Linked DNA regions of Homo sapiens. The protein of the gene in region 5 purifies or fractionates together with the protein of the main gene of each other region. This does not show direct contact. Each region holds a gene or a part of one and is shown on either strand. Other genes may lie near its edges. The genes, in order: PI4K2A, VAMP7, TSPAN3, HSDL1, RNF13, AP1S2 and LMNB1.

What was found.
Region 1: the proteins of RNF13 (region 5) and PI4K2A purify together in Homo sapiens (affinity purification with mass spectrometry; one large-scale study listed by BioGRID and IntAct). This does not show direct contact.
Region 2: the proteins of RNF13 (region 5) and VAMP7 purify together in Homo sapiens (affinity purification with mass spectrometry; one large-scale study listed by BioGRID and IntAct). This does not show direct contact.
Region 3: the proteins of RNF13 (region 5) and TSPAN3 purify together in Homo sapiens (affinity purification with mass spectrometry; 3 studies listed by BioGRID and IntAct, with this or other methods). This does not show direct contact.
Region 4: the proteins of RNF13 (region 5) and HSDL1 purify together in Homo sapiens (affinity purification with mass spectrometry; one large-scale study listed by BioGRID and IntAct). This does not show direct contact.
Region 6: the proteins of RNF13 (region 5) and AP1S2 purify together in Homo sapiens (affinity purification with mass spectrometry; 2 studies listed by BioGRID and IntAct, with this or other methods). This does not show direct contact.
Region 7: the proteins of RNF13 (region 5) and LMNB1 purify together in Homo sapiens (co-purification; one study listed by BioGRID). This does not show direct contact.

What each region holds. Positions count from the first base shown.
Region 1 is NC_000010.11:97,650,671-97,654,170, reverse strand, and holds part of PI4K2A (phosphatidylinositol 4-kinase type 2-alpha), read right to left. Parts: intron 3,231-3,500; coding exon 3,030-3,230; intron 1-3,029. UniProt on the Homo sapiens protein: Membrane-bound phosphatidylinositol-4 kinase (PI4-kinase) that catalyzes the phosphorylation of phosphatidylinositol (PI) to phosphatidylinositol 4-phosphate (PI4P), a lipid that plays important roles in endocytosis, Golgi function, protein sorting and membrane trafficking and is required for prolonged survival of neurons.
Region 2 is NC_000023.11:155,933,345-155,936,844, reverse strand, and holds part of VAMP7 (vesicle-associated membrane protein 7), read right to left. Parts: intron 1-3,500. UniProt on the Homo sapiens protein: Involved in the targeting and/or fusion of transport vesicles to their target membrane during transport of proteins from the early endosome to the lysosome. Required for heterotypic fusion of late endosomes with lysosomes and homotypic lysosomal fusion.
Region 3 is NC_000015.10:77,050,610-77,054,109, forward strand, and holds part of TSPAN3 (tetraspanin-3), read right to left. Parts: intron 2,321-3,500; coding exon 2,168-2,320; intron 1,860-2,167; coding exon 1,776-1,859; intron 1-1,775. UniProt on the Homo sapiens protein: Regulates the proliferation and migration of oligodendrocytes, a process essential for normal myelination and repair.
Region 4 is NC_000016.10:84,131,678-84,135,177, forward strand, and holds part of HSDL1 (inactive hydroxysteroid dehydrogenase-like protein 1), read right to left. Parts: intron 1-3,500.
Region 5 is NC_000003.12:149,868,715-149,872,214, reverse strand, and holds part of RNF13 (E3 ubiquitin-protein ligase RNF13 isoform 1 precursor), read right to left. Parts: intron 187-3,500; coding exon 61-186; intron 1-60. UniProt on the Homo sapiens protein: E3 ubiquitin-protein ligase that regulates cell proliferation. Involved in apoptosis regulation. Mediates ER stress-induced activation of JNK signaling pathway and apoptosis by promoting ERN1 activation and splicing of XBP1 mRNA.
Region 6 is NC_000023.11:15,828,060-15,830,813, forward strand, and holds part of AP1S2 (AP-1 complex subunit sigma-2), read right to left. Parts: exon of another isoform or gene 2,000-2,754; intron 142-1,999; coding exon 133-141; intron 1-132. UniProt on the Homo sapiens protein: Subunit of clathrin-associated adaptor protein complex 1 that plays a role in protein sorting in the late-Golgi/trans-Golgi network (TGN) and/or endosomes.
Region 7 is NC_000005.10:126,818,636-126,822,135, reverse strand, and holds part of LMNB1 (lamin-B1), read right to left. Parts: exon of another isoform or gene 3,215-3,500; coding exon 2,994-3,214; intron 1,227-2,993; coding exon 1,001-1,226; intron 1-1,000. UniProt on the Homo sapiens protein: Lamins are intermediate filament proteins that assemble into a filamentous meshwork, and which constitute the major components of the nuclear lamina, a fibrous layer on the nucleoplasmic side of the inner nuclear membrane.

The DNA.
Region 1 (3,500 bases), on a different chromosome or scaffold from region 5:
ACCTGAAACCTCATAGGAGCAGAGAGCAGAGACAGCCAGTGAGTGAGAATTAGAGCCTTACCATTTGAAGTTCCAATGCAATGTGAACCTTGTTTCTATAATGACAGATGCTCTGATCAACTGGATAGAGTCCTGTCACAAGAGTTGGGGAGACAGGGAGAGGAGTCCTCTTACTATTCTCCAGCAGCTATATGTTAAGCTTCCAAAGTTCTGTCTCATCTCAGTCTCATGGAAGACAAGTATTTTTTTTTTTTGAGACGGAGTCTCGCTCTGTTGCCCAGGATAGAGTGTGGTGGCACAATCTCAGCTCACTGCAACCTCTGCCTTCCAGGTTCAAGCGATTCTCCTGCCTCAGCCTCCCAAGTAGCTGGGATTACAGGCACGCACCACCATGCTCAGCTAAGTTTTGTATTTTTAGTAGAGACAGGGTTTCACCCTGTTGGCCAGGCTGGTCTCGAACTCCTGACCTGAGGTGATCCACCCACTTAGGCCTCCCAAAGTGCTGGGATTACAGGCGTGAGCCAATGAGCCCAGCCAAGACAAGTATTTTTGTTGTTGCTGACTTTCTGATGCAAAAGATCCTCAGGCCTCGTGAAGGTTCTCTAACAGGGAAAGAGGAAGACCAAAGATAGGGACGAAAGGGATTGTGGGGGTGACACTAACGATTAGAATAGCTGATAAAAATATCACAGGCTAACATATGGAGGGTTTACGTTGTGCCTGGCACTCACTCAGCTATGTGCTTCATATAGGCTGTCTTGTGTAATATTGATGGCCACTCTACAAAGTAGGAACTATTTATATCCCTATTTTTACAGTAAGGAAACTGAGCCTAGGGAGGTTACATGACTTGCCCAAGTGTTACACAAATCAAAAACTGCAGAGCAAGAATTCAAACTCAAGTCCTCTGATTCTTGGGCACCACACTCCAGAAGCACCAACAGAGCAGGTAGGCATAGAGCCAGACACGGTCTGCTATTTGCCTAGTAAAGGAAGAAAACTATAGAGTGATAAGCAAGGAGAATGTAAAAGTTTCTAGAGTCTAAGAGGAGCCTAGTAGAAGCATTTCAGGTTAGGAGACTTAAGAACATTAATTATCATACAAGATGTTCAAAGCATGCTGTAAAACTATCTGCACAGAGAGGGAAAAGTAAGGCATAAAGAGAAGGAATGAGCTGTACAAAGCCAGGCAGTGAATTAGATGTGAAATGGGAACTAGAAGCCTGGTCAAACATTTTCTCGCTAGACCTAAAGTTGGAAGAACTTTGGTATTGTTTCTCATGATTTCATATTCATTTACTGACTCAGCTGGTACTTCATGAATGCTTACTATAAATATAGTATTTTGCTAGGTGCTGAGAATGAGAGAGGAAATCTTGAGAAGTGGTCTCTGACTTCTATAACTTACAAACTAGTTGGCTAATTGTTTGGAGTTTAGTAGCAAAGGAGCAGACATGGTTAAATATCCACAATAGTCACATTTTCCTCTCAAACGGAAGGGAAGTTTCTACTGCTGATCAATCTCTTTGCTCATAGAATCTGCTATCTAAACCTGAGAAGACATCTTTAAGGCTGGGTGTGGTGGCTCACACTTGTAATCCCAGCACTTTGGGAGGCCAAGGCAGGAGGATAGCTTGAGCCCAGGAGTTCAAGACCAGCCTGGGCAAAACAGGGAGACCTTGTCTCTACAAAAAATTAAAAAAAAAAAAAATTAGCCAGGCATGGTGGCACATGCCCGTAGTCCCAACCTGAGAGGCTGAGGTGGGAGGACTGCTTGAGCCTGGGAGGTCAAGGCTGCAGTGAGTTGTGATCATGCCACTGCACCCCAGCCTGGGCAACAGAGCAAGACCCTGTCTCTAAAAATAAGAAAGAAAAGAAAACTTTAAGCAGAGGGATTTTAATCTAGAGACATGCTCCCTGGGGTGTCAACAGATAGACTGCAACGTTTATGAACCATTGCCCTAAAATTATACACAAAACAATAATTGCAAATATATGTACTTTTTCTGGAAAGGGGGTCTATAGGTTTCATCAGATTCTCAAAGAGTTATTTACTAAATAACTAAATAAATTTAGTTTTAGTTATTTAGTAAATAACTAAATAAACTAGCATAGACTAGTTAAGACTAAGCACGGAGCCAGGATTGTTTAGATGACTCAGCAGCCTCAGGGCATCAGATGAGAGTCCCACCTAAGTTGTTACTAAACCCCAGGTAGCCACGTACTCAGTGAATGATGTGTCCGGACATGTTCATATGCTGACCAGTAGATTCCTTCCCCTCATAACCTTTGGTGAGTTTCATGGAATACCTTGTAGTGCAGGGGTTCTTAGCCTGGTGTCAGTAAACTCCCTCAAATTGTATGCAATCAATTCTGTATTCAAGCATATTGGTGGGGGTGGGGGTTGGGGGAGACCTCAACTATGTCTATAACACATACAAGATGTGTATGAATCCATTCTGAGTGTGAGTTTGCCTAGATCTGGCACCCCTATTTTGATGTGTTCAGACAAGTCCCAAAATTCGACAGCATAAAGATAAGTTAGAAATATTCCATGTCAGTTCCCTGTAGGGTTCAGGCCAGACCATTGTTCTAACCCTCAGCCTGTCCTAAAGTCTTCCTTGTCAGACCCTGCAGAAGTTCTTAGCTGTCATCAGCCAGTCCTAGACTGTATCGAAATGCTGGGATGGCTCAGAAGTCTGAGAGTAAGCCACAAAGTCACTAGGTTTCTAACTAGCTTGGGGTTAGCTGGGATTCAAAGACCAAGGGAGCCATAAACATGCAGTAGAAGTTTGTGAATTTCCTAAAATTGTATGCAAAAATTGTGTGTGTATCCTTCAAAAGATAGCCTTCATCAGGTGATCAAATCATAAGCCTAATCCTGCCATCCTCCCGAAAAAAGATCGAGAACCCAGACTTAGGGTATAAATGACCCCACTGGACCCAAGGTCCCACTAACATGTAGCAGGGCTTAGGCCCCAGGAAAACTGTGGCCAGGCAGTAAGGCTTCCTGGAGATGGGTCACTGACCTTTGTACGGGGAACAATGTTGAGTTCCAGTTTTTGGTCCACCAGGCTGGCCCCTGCTTCTGAGAGATAGCCCTGGTTAAGGACAAGGCAGTCACGGCCAAAGCAGCAAGGACAGCACAGCTTCTGCAGCCACTTGGTCCACTTAGGATTAAGATGCCCATAGGGCTCTTCATTCTTGGGTTTGAAGACAGCAATGATCCTCTACAGAGACCAAAGAAAAAGAGGATGTTAAATCCGAGTTGACCAAAATAGCCCACAGACCAAGTCAGCAGGAATCTGGAAAGAAATGACAGGGCATAGGCAGACAATTCCTACTTACAGTTGGACTCAGGTTTCTCCCAGTTGGTAAGGGGAAGACACCAGCTCGTGTGTGCAGCTAAGAGACCCACTGCTAGAAAGGGTTGTGGCCAAAGAACATCTTAAGTCTTCTCTTTCTTCCTTGCTCCTTTTTCCCTCTTCTCCATCTCTTTT
Region 2 (3,500 bases), on a different chromosome or scaffold from region 5:
AAATTTCCTTTGATTCCTGTTCCAAGATGGCCAAATAGGAACAGCTCCAGTCTACAGCCCCCAGCGTGAGCAACGCACAAGACGGATGATTTCTGCATTTCCAACTGAGATACCGGCTTCATCTCACTGGGGCTTGTTGGACAGTGGGTGCAGCCCACCGAGCGTGAGCCGAAGCAGGGCGAGACATCGCCTCACCCGGGAAGCACAAGGGGTCAGGGAATTCCCTTTCCTAGCCAAGGGAAGCTGTGACAGATGGCACCTGGAAAATCGGATCACTCCCACCCTAATACTGCGCTTTTCCAACGGTCTTAGCAAACAGCACACCAGGAGATTATATCCCGCGCCTGGCTCAGAGGGTCCCACACCCACGGAGCCTCACTCATTGCTAGCACAGCAGTCTGAGATTGAACTGCAAGGTGGCAGCGAGGCTGGAGGAGAGGCGCCCGCCATTGCTGAGGCTTGAGTAGGTAAACAAAGCTGCCGGGAAGCTCGAACTGGGTGGAGCCCACCACAGCTCAAGGAGGCCTGCCTGCCTCTGTAGACTCCACCTCTGGGGGCAGGGCATAGCTGAACAAAAGGCAGCAGAAACCTCTGCAAACTTAAATGTCCCTGTCTGACAGCTTTGAAGAGAGTAGTGGTTCTCCCAGGACAGAGTTTGAGATCTGAGAACAGACAGACTGCCTCCTCAAGTGGGTCCCTGACCCCCAAGCAGCCTAACTGGGAGGTACCCCCCAGTAGAGGCAGACTGACACCTCACACGGCGGGTACCCCTCTGAGACAAAACCTCCAGAGGAACGATCAGAGAGCAACATTTGGTGTTCAGCAATATTCACTGTTCTGCAGCCTCCGCTGCTGATACCCAGGCAAACAGGGTCTGGAGTGGCCCTCCGACAAACTCCAACAGACCTGCAGCTGAGGGTCCTGACTGTTAGAAGGAAAACTAACAAACAGAAAGGACATCCACACAAAAACCCCATCTGTATGTCACCATCATCAAAGACCAAAGGTAGATAAAACCACAAAGATAGGGAAAAAAACAGCAGAAAAACTGAAAATTCTAAAAATCAGAGCGCCTCTCCTCCTCCAAAGGAACGCAGCTCCTCACCAGCAACAGAACAAAGGTAGACAGAGAATGACTTTGACGAGTTGAGAAAAGAAGGCTTCAGATGATCAAACTTCTCTGAGCTAAAGGAGGAAGTTTGAACCCAGCACAAAGAAGCTAAAAACCTTGAAAAAAAGATTAGATGAATGGCTAACTAGAATAACCAATGTAGACAAGTCCTTAAATGACCTGATGGAGCTGAAAACCATGGCACGAGAACTAAGTGACGAATGCACAAACTTCAGTAGCCGATTCGAACAACTGGAAGAAAGGGTATCCGTGATTGAAGACCAAATGAATGAAATGAAGCGAGAAGAGAAGTTTAGAGAAAAAAGAATAAAAAGAAACGAAAAAAGCCTCCAAGAAATATGGGACTATGTGAAAAGACCAAATCTACGTCTGATTGGTGTACCTGAAAGTGATGGGGAGAATGGAACCAAGTTGGAAAACACTCTGCAGGATATTAGCCAGGAGAACTTCCCCAACCTAGCAAGGCAGGCCAACATTCAAATTCAGGAAATACAGAGAACGCCACAAAGATACTCCTCGAGAAGAGCAACTCCGAGACACATAATTGTCAGATCACCAAAGTTGAAATGAAGGAAAAAATGTTAAGGGCAGCCAGAGAGAAAGGTCGGGTTACCCACAAAGGGAAGCCCATCAGACTAACAGCTGATCTCTCGGCAGAAACTCTACAAGCCAGAAGAGAGTGGGGGCCAATATCCAAAATTCTTAAAGAAAAGAATTTTCAACCCAGAATTTCATATCCAGCCAAACTAAGCTTCATAGGTGAAGGAAAAATAAAATCCTTTACAGACAAGCAAATGCTGAGAGATTTTGTCACCACCAGGCCTGCCTTACAAGAGCTCCTGAAGGAAGCACTAAACATGGAAAGGAACAACACATACCAGCCACTGGAAAAACATGCCAAATTGTAAAGACCATCAAGGCTAGGAAGAAACTGCATCAACTAACGAGCAAAATAACCAGCTAGCATCATAATGACAGGATCAAATTCACACATAACAGTATCAACCTTAAATGTAAATGGGCTAAATGCTCCAATTAAAAGACACAGACTGGCAAATTAGATAAAGAGTAAAGACCCATCAGTGTGCTGTATTCAGGAAATCCATCTCATGTGCAGAGACACACATAGGCTCAAAATAAAGGGATGCAGGAAGATCTACCAAGCAAATGGAAAACAAAAAAAGGCAGGGGTTGCAATCCTAGTCTCTGATAAAACAGACTTTAAACTAGCAAGGATCAAAAGAGACAAAGAAGGCCATTACATAATGGTAAAGGGATCAATTCAACAAGAAGAGCTAACTATCCTAAATATTTATGCACCCAATACAGGAGGACCCAGATTCATAAAGCAAGTCCTTAGAGACCTACAAAGAGACTTAGACTCCCATACAATAATAAAGGGAGACTTTAACACCCCACTGTCAACATTAGACAGATCAATGAGACAGAAAGTTAACAAGGATATCCAGGAATTGAACTCAGCTCTGCACCAAGCGGACCTAACAGACATCTACAGAACTCTCCACCCCAAATCAACAGAATATACATTCTTCTCAGCACCACATCGCACTTATTCCAAAATTGACCACATAGTTGGAAGTAAAGCACTCCTCAGCAAATGTAAAAGAACAGAAATTATAACAAACTGTCTCTCAGACCACAGTGAAATCAAATTAGAACTCAAGATTAAGAAACTCACTCAAAACTGCTCAGCTACATGGAGACTGAACAACCTGCTCCTGAATGACTACTGGGTACATAACGAAATGAATGCAGAAATAAACATGTTCTTTGAAACCAATGAGAACAAAGACACAACATACCAGAATCTCTGGGACACATTTAAAGCAGTGTGTAGAGGGAAATTTATAGCACTAAATGCCCACAAAAGGAAGCAGGAAAGATATAAAATTGACACCCTAACATCACAATTAAAAGAACTAGAGGAACAAGAGCAAACACATTCAAAAGCTAGCAGAAGGCAAGAAATAACTCAGAGCAGAACTGAACGAGATAGAGACACAAAAAACCCTTCAAGAAATCAATGAATCCAGGAGCTGGTTTTTTGAAAAGATCAACAAAATTGATAGACTGCTAGCAAGACTAATAAAGAAGAAAAGAGAGAAGAATCAAATAGACGCAATAAAAAATGATAAAAGGGGATATCACCACCGATCCCACAGAAATACAAACTACCATCAGAGAATACTACAAACACCTCTACACAAATAAACTAGAAAATCTAGAAGAAATGGATAAATTCCTTGACACATACACCCTCCCAAGACTAAACCAGGAAGAAGTTGAATCTCTGAATAGACCAATAACAGGCTCTGAAATTGAGGCAATAATTAATAGCTTACCAACC
Region 3 (3,500 bases), on a different chromosome or scaffold from region 5:
TCCAAAACTTTTTTGCTGCATGCTAGTACATGTGGCTTTATTACTGAACATAAAATCATTAAGAATGCACAGTTCAGAATTCTATTTGGGAAAAGAGACCTTCCTCATATTTCATTATTTTTAGCTAAATGAATGTGTTTGCATAAATAATCAAAATATGAAATAAATCCCTGCTGATCATCAGATTACTGCTATGCAGAGCTACAGAGTAAATGCTTAGAAGGGCAAAGACCATGGCAAATAAAGAGGTAGGCTTTTTAATGAATCATTTCAGGGCTGTCTGAATATCAGCAAAGTAAACAATCATCCTTTTGCCATTTTAAAAGGCCTTTCCCATTAAATACACTAGCTTCTGTTCAAATATACAAAGAGCAAGCAATCCAAGCAACTTACATTTAAACTAGCAATTACATTGGTTTTATTTAACAAATAAAAGTTATCTACATTTTTCTTTTTTAAAAAAAATTTTTTTTTTGGTAGAAATGGAGTCTTATTGCCCAGGCTGGTCTCAAACTCCTAACATCATGGGATCCTACTCCTCGGTCTCCCAAAGTGCTGGGATTACAGGTGTAACCCATCACACCTGGCTCTTTTAGCTCTTGAAATAGGTTTCAGGCTTAAGAAAGCATAAGCTGAGGCTGGGCGCGATGGCTCACGTCTATAATCCCAGTACTTTGGGAGGCCGAGGCAGGTGGATCACCTGAGGTCAGGAGTTCAAGACCAACCTGGCCAACATGGTAAAAACCTGTCTCTACTAAAAATACAAAAATTAGCTGGGCATGGTAGCGGGAACCTGTAATCCCAGCTACTTGGGAAGCTGAGGCAGAAGAATCACTGGAACCTGGGAGGCAGAGGTTGCAGTGAGCTGAGATCACACCATTGCACTCTAGCCTGGGCAACAAAAGCAAAACTCTGTCGTAAAAAAAAAAAAAAGAAAAGAAAAGAAAAGAAAGCATAAGCTGGGTGCGGTGGCTCACGCCTGTAAATCCCAACACTTTAGGAGGCCAAGACAGAGGATTGCTTGAGGCCAGGAGTTTGAGACCAGCCTGGGCAACATAATGAGACCCCATTTCTGGAAAAAAAAAAAAAAAATTAAAAATTAGTCTGGTGTGGTGGCCCGTGCTTGTAGTCCCAGCTACTGGAGAGGCTGAAGCAGGAGGATCGCTTGAGCCCAGGAGTTCAAAGTTACAGTGAGCTATTATCATGTCATTGCACTCAAGCCTGGGTGACAGAGTGAGACCTTGTCTCTATTTTTAAAAGTTGTTGTGTTTAGTGCAAGAGACCAGTGCTGTAGTACCAGTTCTTGATTTACGTATATGAATATATAAAACCTGTGAGGACAGAAAAACAAGAACTAGAGGGAGAACTAGCATACAAAAAAACTGAATAAAGCTTTGTATTCCCAAACTGAAAGAAAGAAGTACAATTTTTAAAAATTTTGTGACATTCTAATAAAATATCTTCCAAGAATACACTAAGACAACAGTTCGTTTATGTTTTGAACAGGTCACTCACTAATCAAGAAAGACAGTAAGACGAGGAGTTCCCTCAACACGTGGTCCCTCCCCATCCAGATTTCTGGTTTCTTTAGACCATTCCGGGTCTAGGTGTATAGACAAGAAATGGAAAACATGGGAAACTGGAGGCCAGTACCTCAGTCACTTCCACATTACCTACATACACAAAGATTCACTGTGATGGGGATTAAAACCATTCAGGGCTGACAACAGAGAACCAACTCACTCCGATAGAACTCCTTGGCAAGCTGTGCTTACCTGAATAGCTGCAAATGCCAGTGCGGCCCAGATCACATGCATCATGATTTCTTGTAGCTTCTTCACTACTAGAGCCTCACACCCCTGTAACAAACACAGTCATCCTCGTTAGAAGTGTTCTTTAAAAGTTAAAGCTGCAGATTCACAGGCCACTACCCACTTACAGAAAGGAAAATGACAGAAACTGAAAGAGTGGAAAAAAGATTCCATGATTGGTATAATTTACAGACATGTAATTAAAACAAAGACATGCATTTTATAATAATTTACAGTAAAACAATATATGACATTAAAGACAAGCAAGGTGGCAGAAAAGAAGTCCCAGATGGTGATAAGACATGGTGAAAAACAGGTTAATCAAGCTAGACTCAAGTCGTGGCCAAGAGACTCACCTCAGCATAGAGGTCGGAAGGGTGGGCCAGGCTGCCATTACAATTGCTGGCAGTCTCTCTGCAGCAGCTAAGAGGGACACTCTGGTTTTTGGTTTCTTTGAACCAATCTGTATTTTCCCAGTCTGAGTAGTTGTGAATTCCACAACAATGCAGCTAAAGGAGAAGAGAATAAGTATTATTTCTCACAAAAACCAAATACCTGAAGTTCCATGTACTACAGAGCTTTAAAATAAGCTACTCTAGACCAGTGATGTCCGATACAACTTTCTATAATGGAAAGTCTGCATGATCCAATATAGCAGCCACTAGCCACATGAAGCTCTACTGAGCACTTAAATTGTGGCTAGTGTGACTAGAAAACTGCATTTTAAATTTTAATGTAAACAGCCAGACATGGCTAGTGGCTCCAGAATCTCCATATGAAAAGTACATTGCCAGGCCGGGTGCAGTGGCTCACGCCTGTAATCCCAGCACTTTGGGAGGCCGAGATGGGCGAGTCACCTGAGGTCAAGAGTTCAAGACCAGCCTGACCAACATGGTGAAACCCCGTCTCTACTAAAAATACAAAGGCTGAGGCAGGAGAATCACTTGAACCCGGGAGGTGGAGGTTGCAGTGAGCCAAGATCGCGCCACTGCACTCCAGCCTGGGCAACAAGAGTGAAATTTCGCCATCTCAAAAAAAAAAAAAAAAAAAAAAAAAAAAAAAAAAAAAAAAAAAGAAAAGAAAAGTACATTGCCTATAAGCGGTAGTTTCTAACTAAGGAAAATCTTCATGTCTTACATGTTAAATATCTGGTTCCATGTTAAATATTATTTCCAATGACAAAGTATTTAAAATATTTGGTCTTAAAAATTTTGAGATTTGCTTTAAGATAATGAAGCAAAAAGTAAGTAGGGGCAATAAGACTGACGAAAAGTTGATATTACTGAGGCAAGGTCGGGGTGCAAACATCTATTACACTATTCTTTCTACCTTTGTGTGTATCAGACTGTCCATAACAACTTTTTTTTGACAGTTTTTCTGTTGCCTTTTCTTATCTTGTTTTCTAAAGGTATATATAGACCTCCCACCTCCCCTGGAGTCAATCTGGACTCCCACCTTTCCTGTGACACATACCTCTCTCTTGCGTCATCACCCCTTTGGCTAAGTACTTTGGGAGAGTACAGACTGGGGTCAGGGAAGGGGAAATCAGATGATAAAAAAAAGTTCAAGATGTTTCTCATCTGGCTAGGTGATGAAATAAACTTTTCAAGGGTGAAGGTTGGGGAAAAATATTGGTCACATCAGGATAGCCATGTATGTGAAGAAACATGGCTAATTTACACAGAAATA
Region 4 (3,500 bases), on a different chromosome or scaffold from region 5:
CTAATTTTTTTTTTTTTTTTTGAGACGGAGTCTCGCTGTCGCCCAGGCTGGAGTGCAGTGGCGCAATCTCGGCTCACTGCAGGCTCCGCCCCCTGGGGTTCACGCCATTCTCCTGCCTCAGCCTCCGGAGTAGCTGGGACTACAGGCGCCCGCCACCTCGCCCGGCTAATTTTTTGTATTTTTAGTAGAGACAGGGTTTCACCGCGTTAGCCAGGATGGTCTCAAACTCCTGACCTCAGGTGATCCGCCACCCTTGGCCTCCCAAAGTGCTGGGATTACAGGTGTGAGCCACCATGCCTGGAGATTCAGCCAATTTATGATCTCACCATTTAACATCCGTAGCTTATAAAGTTACTTTCTTCCAAGGAGACTAATCAACATAACTACCAGAAGTTACCAAATTCCCACTAAAATTCAGGTACTACACTACATGCTGTGGCTACAGAGATAAACACAATATGCTCTGTGCCTGTAACATGCTCCTAGTCTAATAATAACAAACACAAAGCTTCTAATTCATACAGCAGAGGTACATGTATTTCTTTGCTTTATTCATAATCAGCAAGAATGGAGGACCTACTACCTGTGTAGGGACAAAGGAGATGAAACAGAGGTGGCACTAAGACATGGCCTTGGCCTCAAAAGCTTACAATCCACTGGAGACAAAACTCAGCTTTCAAAAACCTTTACATCAATTAAAAAAAAAATTTTTTTTAAAGAGATACCCTCCAAGCTTGGAAAAATGGCTTCTCAAATGACAATAGAGGGAGCACTCCTCCATCTTCTAACTTAATTTGTAACCATTATGTTGCCTGGTCTCTTACATTTGAGGAAAGAAAAGTCCAACACAACTCTGTTGAGTGTCCACATAGCAAGTATATACTAAGCACCTACTATGTTCTATGTACTGTGATTCAAAGGATTCACAGATGAACTAAATGACCGTCCCTAGGTGAAGACGCAGACATTTAACAAAATAATGTAAAATGCCACATGATGTGGTAGGTGTGTGCCTGCAATCAGAGATAACCCTGCAGAAGTAGACAAAGGCCAGGCATGGGGGGTCTGGCCACAGACCGAGTGAGTGGACTTCATATCAGGCTAAACCAACCGTGTGCATCCTGCGAAAGACAAAATATCAAAACAACTGCAATAGACTACACTTATATTACAGGGAACTCAGATACACACAAACCCAAGGACACAGCTTATATTCTAAAAAGAACATGATTTTAAGCCAAAAGAAAAAGAAATATAAAACTTCTGGGGGTGGCAACTTTTGAAGAAATCCCTTTAAAATAGAAAAAAAAAAAAAAGTCTGGATACTAAGAAAATACCCAACAATAGCAGCACAAATTAGCCTAAGTTTGAGAAAGAATGGGGAATTCCCTCCTACTCCACTGCAGTGTAATCTGAGCTCAACAAAGTTTTGCAAAGTAAAAAAGGAACCAAGCAGAAGAAAACAAATGAACCACTGAAACGGAACACATACAAGAATGGCACCATATTGTGATAAAAGGCATATAAAATAATTTTAAAACTATTGAATAAATATATATAAATGTGTAGTGTGAATTACAAATCAACAAAACGTACACAAGAAATATGACTGAAAACTGAAGAAATGGAGAAGCAGTAGGATTCCTAAATGCCCTACGATAAGGAAACAATCTCTCTAAAAAAGAAAGTTTCATACTGGTACCGTATTAAGTTGATATTGCTGCTATATTAAGTTACCAAATTAAGCCAATGTGGCATTAAGTTTAAAAAATGTTTTCCTCAGCCGGGCGCGGTGGCTCATGCCTATAATCCCAGCACTTTGGGAGGCCAAGGCAGGTGGTCAGGAGTTCAAGACCAGTCTGGCCAAGATGGTGAAACCTCGTCTCTATTAAAAATACAAAAATTAGCTGGGCATGGTGGTGGGCACATGTAATCCCAGCTACTTGGGAGGCTGAGGCACAGAACTGCTTGAACCCGGGAGGAGGAAGTTACAGTGAGCCGAGATCATGCCACTGCGCTCCAGCCTGGGCGACAGAGTGAGACTCCATCTCGAAACAAACAAACAAAAAAGTTTTCCTCAAATGAAAAGTTGGGCCCCTTTATTCCCTACAGGTAAAATGCTGTCCACTGGGGCTCTGTGCACAGAAACTCACCTCCCACAATGAGAATGCCAAAGTTCATCATGAAAAGGAAACATTTTAAATTTGACTAAGTACATAAACCAAATACTTAAGCTAAAAACAACTAAAATAAATGCTCCTTTGGGGTAATTTTTCTTTATGAACCAGATTGGCTGAGATGACCTAAAATATGAGCTGTCTAGTTCAACAAAGTCTTTCTTTTTTCTGAGCAATCTTCCGTACAGCAGTCACCAATACCCCTTACTGCTCCCAAATCCTTTGATTGACAATCCTTTGAAATATATTCAAAGTTAGGGCCCCCCCTTCAGTGTAGCGAACGAGCATACCTGTTTCCAGATCTGCATGAGAGGAAGCCGCGCCACCACCCCTCCCACAACCCTCCTGCTGCTGGATATGCTGATGACGGGCACGGTATCAGAGTTTTCACACTGGCTGTAGCCCTTGAACAGTCATAAGTACTGGACTCCCAAAGACAGGCCCAAAACATTAATATCCTATAAGAACATTAAAAACTGACATTCCAGCCAGGGACGGTGGCTCACACCTGTAATCCCAGCACTTTGGGAGGCCGAGGTGGGCAGATCACTTGAGGTCAGGAGTTCAAGACCAGCCTGGCCAACATGGTGAAACCTGATCTCTACTAAAAACACAAAAATTAGCCGGGTATGGTGGTGACTGCCCAGCTTGGGTGGCTGAGGAAGGAGAATCACTTGAATCAAGCAGGCGGAAGTAACAGTGAGCCAAGATTGCACCACTGCACTCCAGCCTGGGCGACAGAGTTAGACTCCATCTCAAGAAAAACCCCAAAAAACAAACAAAAAAAACAACCGAGATTCTATGTTAGACCATCCTAAATTGTGAGTTCCGGAAATAACTCATAAAAAGTGTGGGTGCCTTTTGTCATAACTAATCAAACACAAGGCCATGAGGAAAGTAAATGCAAAAACAATTACCTGTATGTAATTACCTGTATGTACCAGGACCTCTCAAGCAAAATGTAATAAAATTGGGAATAACAAGCTATGACTAAAGAAACCTAGACACTTGGAATATTAAGCTTATTCTTCTAATAACAGGTAGGCATACATCTAGGCTGTTAAAACAGTGTTTTCAATGAAAAAATAGATACTACAGGCCAGCCACGGTGGCTCGCGCCTGTAGTCCCAGCACTTTGGGAGGCCGAGACGGGCGGATCACGAGGTCAGGAGATCAAAACCATCCTGGCCAACAGGGTGAAACCCTGTCTCTACTAAAAATACAAAAAATTAGCAGGGCGTGGTGGCGGGCACCTGTAGTCCCAGCTACTCAGGAGGCTGAGGCAGGAGAATGGCATGAACCGGGGAGGCAGAGCTTGCAGTG
Region 5 (3,500 bases):
ATGATTTAAATTAGCTAACTGAACAAATAGGAAACAAAAAATGAAAAAAGATAATCATACCTTTATATCAAAATTACAATCAAGTCTTCTAATTAACACGATGAAAGTGCCAGATGAATTGTCTTTTACTGGTGGAGGCACTATGGGTTCACAGGCATTCTCTGGTTTTGAGTTAATCAAAAAACCCTGAAAAAGAATTGGTAAAAATTATCTCTCTGTTTCACTCAGTAAATCAATCAACTTACTTCTACAAATATCTTTTCGATTTGTCATGTGTTTTGCATTATGCTAGATGTATCATTGGGCATGTAAAATTGCTCACAATCACGGAACTTCTAAAGCAGCATTTGCTTTCACAAGCATTTAGTTTTCTAAAATAAGTTCTATCTTTTGTATTGAAGTTAAAAAAATAATAATAATAAGCAAACTCAGGCATAAGCCAATCACCCCAAAGACAACCACTGGTATATTTTCGAACAATATTTGACATTTTCAAACCAAGCAAATATGTCTTAAAAATTAACTTTCTTTCATGTTAGCAGACAATGAAATGCACATAATAAATAAATTTCTAGAAATTTATTCTGCAGAAATGCTAGCCTGAGTATGTAAGGTGTATGTGGAAAGACAGTCATTGGTACATTATTTTTAATAGCAAAAACTGGAAATCATGCATATCCACAAGGTAACTATTTAAACAATTATAGTATATTTATACAATAGGAAAATAATGCAGCCATTTAAAAAAATAAGGAAGACCTGTATACACTAAACTGAAAAGACGTCCACGAGATAACCATGAATTTAAAAAGTAAACAGCAAGTTGCTTTCCCAGGAATGCAGGATGGTTTGACATAAGAAAATGTAGTAACAGGCTGGTCACAGTGACTCACATTTGCAATCCCAGCACTTTGGGAGGCCGAGGCAGATGGATCACCTGAAGTCAGGAGTTCAAGACCAGCCTGGCCAACATGGCAAAACCCCATCTCTACTAAAAATACAAAAATTAGCCGAGCATGGTGGCACACACCTGTAGTCCCAGCTACTTGGGAGGCTGAGGCAGGAGAATGGCTTGAACCCAGGAGGTGGAAGTTGCAGTGAGTCAAGATTCTGCCACTGCACTCCAGCCTGGGCGATAGAGCGAAACTCCGTCTCGGAAAAAAAAAAAAAAAAAAAAAATCTGGTAACAGACTAAAACAGAAAAATCAAATGTCTATCTTTTGTAAAAAGTGAATAAACACATAAAAAGATGATCAAATTCACTGATTTCATTTATAAAGGAAGGAGGCAATTAAAGCTATGAGACAATGCCTTAACAACAGTTCTGTATGGTCCTGAACTGGTCACACCAATCATCTATTCCACAGGATTTGGCAATTTCTCCTCCCTGAAATTATATTGCTCAGCTTGTGATATGGAAAGTGTTTGTACATATCTTGGGTATAAAATGTATCACTCTTTCATTTGCTCATATAATAGCTCCTCTTCTTAATCCCATAAAGCACTCGGTTTTTGTTTTGCAACGAAGTACAACTGTGGTCATCCTTCCAATGATGAATATTTGCTTTATTCTTGTTAAATTTGCATCCTGCTCTGAGTGCCTTTCTGCAAACACTAAGTTTTTGCTCCAATGCTAAATCATATAGTGTAGGAAATATTTTTCAACATGATTATTACAGCAATTAAACTCAAGCCATATAGGTTGGCTTCCAGCTCCAAAATGATGATGCAGAAGCAAGCTGGTTTGACTCCCCCCATAGAAAAAGAAAAACAAATGTACAGCAATGAGATTACGGCCAGAAATAAGCTAGAACTCAAATATAAGGAGAGATCATTCCCAGGGCCACAGAGAAGTAAAAAAAACTCCCAGCAGACAGAGAATCAGACTTCCACATCTACTATGCCCCTCCCCCCATTTTGCCGAGCACCAACTGCAAGGAAAATTTCCCTCCAACTCACTGTTTCTACACTGGAAAAGTAAGACCAAAGTGGAACCAGATTGCCCACTATCTTGGGTTCCCTAGGAGGAGATTTGTCCCTTCCTTAACCCACAGAAAGCATCACAAGTACCTGAAGGGAGAAATATCCATGAGGTAGATAGAGACTAAGAGGGGAAGCAGGACTACAATCCCTAGCCCTGGAAAGGAGAGCCCTCCTTTGTAATTCTACCAAAGGAGATGCCAAATCACAGTAGCTATTCAGTAGCACCATACAGTAGGTTTGTCCCACAGGTCCACTGGGCATGAACCTCCACAGTCAGCCTTCCCACAGTGCCAAGATATCCCTGTTGGGAACTGCCCCTTTGGGAAGGGCAGCATTTTGATAATTTACTAGAGCCAAGGTGAACCTAAGCTTAAGGCATCACCTATAGCCAAAAAGGAGGCAGTAACCTAGCAGTAAATAACCTCTAACCAAATACATCCAATAGAAACCAAAACAAGCCAGACAGAGAAGAACAGAATAAATAACTAATCTTTCAATGCAAAGACACTGACATACATCCACAAGAAACAAGAGCAAGCAGGGAACCATGATCCCCAAATGGACGAAGCAAGAAACCAACAAGCAACCCTAACAAGATGGCAATATGTGAACTTTTTTTTTTTTCTGAGGCGGAGTCTCGCTCTGTCGCCCAGGCTGGAGTGCAGTGGCGGGATCTCGGCTCACTGCAAGCTCCGCCTCCCGGGTTCATGCCATTCTCCTGCCTCAGCCTCCCAAGTAGCTGGGACTACAGGCGCCCGCCACTACGCCCGGCTAATTTTTTGTATTTTTTAGTAGAGACGGGGTTTCACCGTTTTAGCCGGGATGGTCTCGATCTCCTGACCTTGTGATCCGCCCGCCTCAGCCTCCCAAAGTGCTGGGATTACAGGCGTGAGCCACCGCGCCCGGCCTAATATGTGAACTTTTTAACCAAGAATTCAAAATAGTAGTTTTAAGGAAACTCAGTGATCTCCAAGATAACACAGAAAAGAAATTCAGAAATTTATCAGAAAATTTTAACCAGAAAATTGAAATAATTTTGTTTAAATCAAACAAATTTTGGAACTGAGAAATACATCTGCTGACCTGAAAAATTCATTAAAGGCTCTCAACATCAGAATGGATCAAGGAGAAGAAAGAATCAGCCAAGTCAAAGACAGCCTATTTTTTAAGTACACAGAAGAGAAAAAAGAAAAGAGTGAAAAGCAATAAAGATCTCCTACAAGATAAAGAAAATTACCTCAAAAGACTAACTCTAAGAATTATTGTGTTCAAGAGGGAGCTGAGCAAAAGTAAGGTATAGAAAGCTTATTCAAAAAAATAATAAAAAACTTTCCAAAACTTGAGAAAGATGTAAATAACCAGCTACAGGAAGGTCAGAGAACAAACAGATTTGACCCAAATAAGACTACCCCAAGACATACACTAATCAAACTCTCAAAGGTCAAGGACAAAGAGAGGATCCTAAATGCAGCAAGAAAAAAGAAGAAAATGATATACAAAGGAGTTCCAATTCATCT
Region 6 (2,754 bases), on a different chromosome or scaffold from region 5:
AAATCACAAAATAAAGGACCAAGGAGGCCAACTTTCAGGTATTACTAGCAACGAATTTTGTAATTAAAAGGCAACACTATATTTTAATGATGGAAAATAATATAAATTTTTGGCATCCAGTAATAAACTTACTTTCGCATCCTAATCATGGTACAGCACAAAGCAAGGAGAAGAGAAATTATATTAAACCATAAATCTTTAGAATATTAATTGCATGTAAAGCACTTCATGGTGTAATCTTAAGTAAATTACTTAAACTCTATGGTCTGTTTCCTTATTTGGAAAACATGGATAATAGTACTTACCTTCATATGTTGAGATTAAGTGAATTAAGGCTCTGCCTAATTTATAGAAAGTGCTTCAAAAATGTTAGGTGATATAGTTACACAATTGAAATCGAAATGATTTAGCATTTATTATTAAACGCAAGTACTATACACCAATTCTACTTATAAAGCTCATATGATGACCTTTTAGTATGTCTGCATAGTAATAAAAATGGGTAAAAATCAGCTTTAGCGAAAAAAGGTATTTTTTTAAAAAGAGTCTAACCTATGAAGTATTCTTGCCCCCTCAAATTGAACCTCAATCTAGTCAGGTTACAGATCTAAATAGAAATGAGGGATATAAGAACAGCTAAACATTGCCATATGAGTATGATGGCCAAATCCATAAGGTAGGACATCCTGCAGCATAAATGACCTCGTTTTAAAAAAAAAAAATGGCAAGGCGGGAAAAAGCAGACGATTTGTTAAAGATTAAAAGAGACTTAAAACGCACATCAATCAGATACAATGTGAGAGTCTTGGTTGGAATCTGATTCTAACAAACCAAATATAAAAAGGCATTTTTCAGACAATTAGGAAAAATTGAGCCAGGCATAAGATAGTAATTATTAATTCCTGTTAATTTTGTGGGGCATGGTACTTTATCTGTTAGGGACACATACTGAAGTATTAAAGACAAACTGACAAGATGTCTAGGGCTTGCTCTAAGATACTGAGGCAAAAATGCGGGGAGTGGTTGGGGAAACAGTATTAAGTTGATGGTTCTTGAAGCTCAGTGATGTGTACACGAGGGTTCTTTATACTATTTCCTATACTCGTGAGTCTTGAAGTTTTCATGATAAAGTTTTTTAAGAAAGTCCAGTGGAAATGATGTAACACCCAAGAGTGATGTAAGCCAATCCCTTTCATTTATATTTAGCCTTAAGCATTAAATACACTGAGAATGACATCTAAATCTCATAAATATTCAAGAAAAATTTAAAATAATTATTTCCATGTAATGTTAAGTAGTTTAAAGGTTCATGTAGCCTTGAATGTATCAATTAAATAATGCCTCCATTGAATTCTACAGTTTACATTCTCAGCTTCTCCATGTAAAAATGCCCCACAGCTACTCCGTGGAGCTGGTCAGACTTTTCCCCATGTGCTCACTGCCTGCAATCTTATATAGCATTTCCTGTAGAGAATCATACTGCTTATCAAATATGCATTATTGAAAATATGTGTCCTTTCTAAAAGGCCTAGTTTCAAAGAATTATTTACACATTTTATTCTTGTGAGACTTGCACAGGTAGAGTTTTAAAATAAATTGTGGTGATAATATAAAATGGAACTTACACATGTTCACACTGAAATTGTAGCTCAAAACTACCCAGAAAAACTATTATCTATCTAAAGTAGTAAAATTTATAGAAACAGAAAGTCGAATGGTGGTTGCCAGGGGCTGGGGGACAGGGAGAAATGGGGAATTGTTGATTAATGGGTATAGAGTTTCAGTTCTGCCAGATGAAAAAGTCCTGCAGATCTGCTGCACAACAATGTGAATAAACTTAACTAACACAACTGAACTGTACACTTAAAACTGCGTAAGATGGTGAATTCTGTGTTATGTGTTTTTAACCACAATTTAAAAAATTTGCCTAGAAAAATGAAAATATAAAACGTTATTTTATGAGGGATGGAAAAGAAAAAGTCATTCACATGAGACGAAGTACATGCAATACTTTTATTTTAGACATGCAAGGAAAGCTATTTCAGAATCTACTAATTTAAAGCAAGCAGCTGTATACAGACAGCAAAAGAAGCAACATTTTGTTACAGCTTAGCACAAGGCATCCAACACAAACAGGCATGAGACAATGCATATTTATGTAGCATTAAAACCAGATGAATAATATATTGTGGGGCAGGAGGAGGAAAGGAGGGGAAAAAAAAATAGAAATGAAAGACCAATGTTTCTCAATGCTTCCAATATATAATGCTAAATTTCCCACCTGATTGATAGCACATCCAGGTGCTTCAAATGTCGTGCATTACAGTGAGAATGTTAAGAATGGAAAATCTTATCTGTGTACCTGCCTAATACTAAGTTTGGTCAAAACACATTTTCATAGATCTTCTTTCAGTGATAAATCGATTTGAACATCTTGTGAAGTTATTGTTTAATAACTTACTTAACTTAGGCTTTATGCTCTCTAGATATAAACAATGAATTCTTTTCCTTTTATAAAAAAATATGCTGCATGTTTTATTAAAAGAATATGCAATAGTTACCAATATTAAAGGTTTTAAAATTCAGAAATATAATGCCACAGTTAACAAAGTATCAAGTATTTAAATGAGGACTTAATATATTAGAATGCCATCACTAGTAAAATATAAGTATTTAGGTATTAAAACTGAATGAATATTAGAATTTTTGAACTATATAAACTCAGCATTAATGCTTTGAAAGAGTTATTATTCA
Region 7 (3,500 bases), on a different chromosome or scaffold from region 5:
TAATCCCAGCTACTCAGGAGGCTGAGGCAGGAGAATCTCTTGAACCCAAGAGGTGGAGGAGCCAAGATCATGCCACTGCACTCCGACCTGGGCAACAGAGCAAGACTCAAAAAAAAAAAAAAGGCTACAAAGAGACCTTAGAGCCTATTCTCTTTAGCATTAAAACTGTTGGTGCTCATTAGTGCTCCTTCACTCATCCAAATTACATATTCATCCACATGCAAGATAGTTTTAATAACTGTGGTGAGAAAAGACTAATTTTCAAAACTACTTTTAGCAGGCCCTGAACATATGTTTCAAGATGTGACATCCATCCCACTGCCGCCTGCACGCTCCCAGACCATGCCTTCCTCTAGTATCATCTCACAACCCATCATGGCCTCCAGCTCCTTGATGCAGAGCTAGGGAAGGCCCACACTACAGAGCTCCCGAAAGCCCCAGCCCTAAATTTCAGAAATCTCTGCTATGAATACTTCATGTTTACTTTTAAACATATTTCAAAATAAGGCTTCATGCTATTTTTCATGTAAAGTATTAGCATTTGTTCATTCATTTATTTGCAGGGAAAAATATTCCCTTAATATCTGAGTCCAGGCTCTTATCTCCTTCTTTCAGTAAGCTTTTTATTAAGTTAATGACCGAAAGAATATCCACCATTTTCATCCAATTGCTCCAACTTCTTCACAAATTTGGCTAGGGCAGAGAATAATAATAACTCATCCTCAGAACCACTGTGATAAAAGGAACATGCTTTTCAAAAAAGCCCTGGCCCTCTAAAGAAGGGTTAATGAAGCAAATCTTTAAACTACTAAGGGTACCTAACTCTTCCTCCTCCTATTTTAATTTTTATTTTATTTTATGAATTTAAGTAAAAAGGACATAAACCCTTATTCCATGAAGACGTAATGAATCCAAACAAAAACTAAGGAGCTATGACAATTGCAAGAGAATCTAGCAATCCACAAAGCCTTGCTAGAAAAAAAAGGGTCTATTTTATTACCTGTTCAGAAGTGTTCTTCAAGCGGATAAATTTCCCATCAACATCAATTTCTTCGATGCAAACATTTCCAGTGGCTGAGGCGGAATGAGAGATGCTAACACTACTACTCGCCTCTGATTCTTCCACATCAACCCTCTTCCGCTTTCCTCTAGTTGTACGTACACTACGACTTGAGGATGCTCGGGATACTGTCACACGGGAAGAAGGGCTTGGAGACAGCTTCAACCTATATGGGAAAAATAAAACAATTCATTTTTAAAACACATATGCCCTTCTCGCCTTAAAAAAAAAAAAAACAAAAAAACAAGGGCTGGGCACAGAGGCTCATGTCTGTAACCCAACAGCACTTTGGGAGGCCAAGGCAGGTGGATTGCTTGAGGTCAGGAGTTCAAGATCAGCCTGACCAACATGGTGAAACCCCGTCTCTACTAAAAATACAAAAATTAGCCAGGCGTGGTGGTGGGCGCCTGTAATACTAGCTACTCAGGAGGCTGAGGCAGGAGAATGGCTTGAACCCGGGAGGCAGAGGCTGCAGTGAGCTGAGATCACACCACTGCACTCTAGCCTGGGTGACAGAGTGAAAACCTGTCTCAAAATAATAATAATAAGAAGAAGAATATCCCACCCATGCATTTCTAAAGCAAAATATTACTTACAATCTGTTAGCCAAAGCCAAAGTTTACCTTAACTAATGTAAACTTCTTCATAAGGTGCCCATCGTCAATTTTCTTTTTTAAAAAATAACAATCTGAATGTTTTCTCTAGGGATGGAAGTAATATAACCATAATGCAAGAAGTCTGGTAAATGGGTAGAAAGTCATCTGATCTACCACCACCCACCACAGCCACTGTTATAGTTGGTGTACTTTTTTCTCTTTTCGTACCTGTACTTTCTTATGATCACAACGGATATAATATTAAAATTATCTGGCTTTTTATCCTAAATCAGCCACTTTCCTTTTGGAACTTTTTTTTTCTTTTTCTTTTTTTTGTGAGACAGAGTTTCACTCTTGTCACCCAGGCTGGAGTGCAATGGCACAATCTTGGCTCACTGCAAACTCCACCTCCCAGGTTCAAGCAATTCTGTCTCAGCCTCCCAAGTAGCTGGGATTACAGGTGCCTGCCACCATGCCCAGCTAATTTTTGTATTTTCATTAGAGACGGAGTTTCACCATGTTGACCAGGCTGGTCTTGAACTCCTGACCTCATGTGATCCGCCTGCCTTGGCCTCCCAAAGTGCCGGGATTACAGGCATGAGGCAATGCACCTGGCCCTTTTGGAACTCTTTTCTGAGAACAGGTGTCAAAAATATTTATACATTGACCAGATTTAAAATATATATAAAGCCAGCCGGGCGTGGTGGCTCACACCTGTAATCCTAGCACTTTGGGAGGCTGAGGCGGGTGGGTCACTTGCAGTCAGGAGTTTGAGACCAGCCTGGCCAACATGGTGAAACCTCTTCTCTACTAAAAACAAAATTAGCCGGGTGTGGTGACACACGCCTGTAATCCCAGTTACTCAGGAGGCTGAGGTAGGCAAATCGCTTGAAACCAGGAGGTGAAGGTTGCAGTGAGCCGAGAATCACACCACTGCACTCTAGCCTGGGCAACAGGCTGAGACTCTGTCTCAAAAATAAATAAATAAATAAATAAATAAATAAATAAATAAATAAATAATATGTAAAGTCTCTTTCAGCCAGTTTGGCATTTTACAATATATTAAATCACCAAAACACTTAAAATCTCAAAGGAACTAATCCATCCTGATGCAGTTCAGCATTTAAAGTAATAATAATAAATAAACTAAGAGTACTTGAGCAACATTTTCTGCGATGAGGTAGAAATATGATCTATTACTACTTCTATACCTAGGTGTTCAAAGAAATGACCAAGAAAATAAAGTTCTTTTTAAAATGCTATTTATTTTTATTTCAATAAAAAGGGTGAGAGGCAAAAAGTGGACCATAAGGTAGGGTGACCCTTAAGTTCCTTACCTCTCTTCTTCGCCTTCTAAGAGTTTCCTGTAAGCACTGATTTCCATGTCCAGGGCTAACTTTACATCAAGAAGCTGTTCATAGTCATTCAGCTGTTGCTGCATTTGATCCCTTATTTCCGCCATCTCTCTCTCTTTGTCTGTCAGCATGCGACGAGAGTTGTCTTTTTCTTTAGCAAGCAAGTCCTCTAATTCTTGAATCCTTTCCAAACATGCTCTAGACTTAAGATGCAAGGAAACATATTTACTTTCTAGGAACATTCCAACATTAGCACCAGGCAGCTATTTTAAATCATTTCCTAGACTGGAAAACAGTACAACCCTATGGAATCTCTAACTCACTAGAATTCAAGAGATTTTAAGAAATTAAAACCCAAAATTCCTCAAATACAAAACACAGACCTCAGGATAGTTTTGGCTGATAAAAGAATAAAAGACATATTCCACAAATGTAAGTTCTGTAAATATACATATAATTTTTCTGTACTTAGCCAAAAAAATGTTAAGA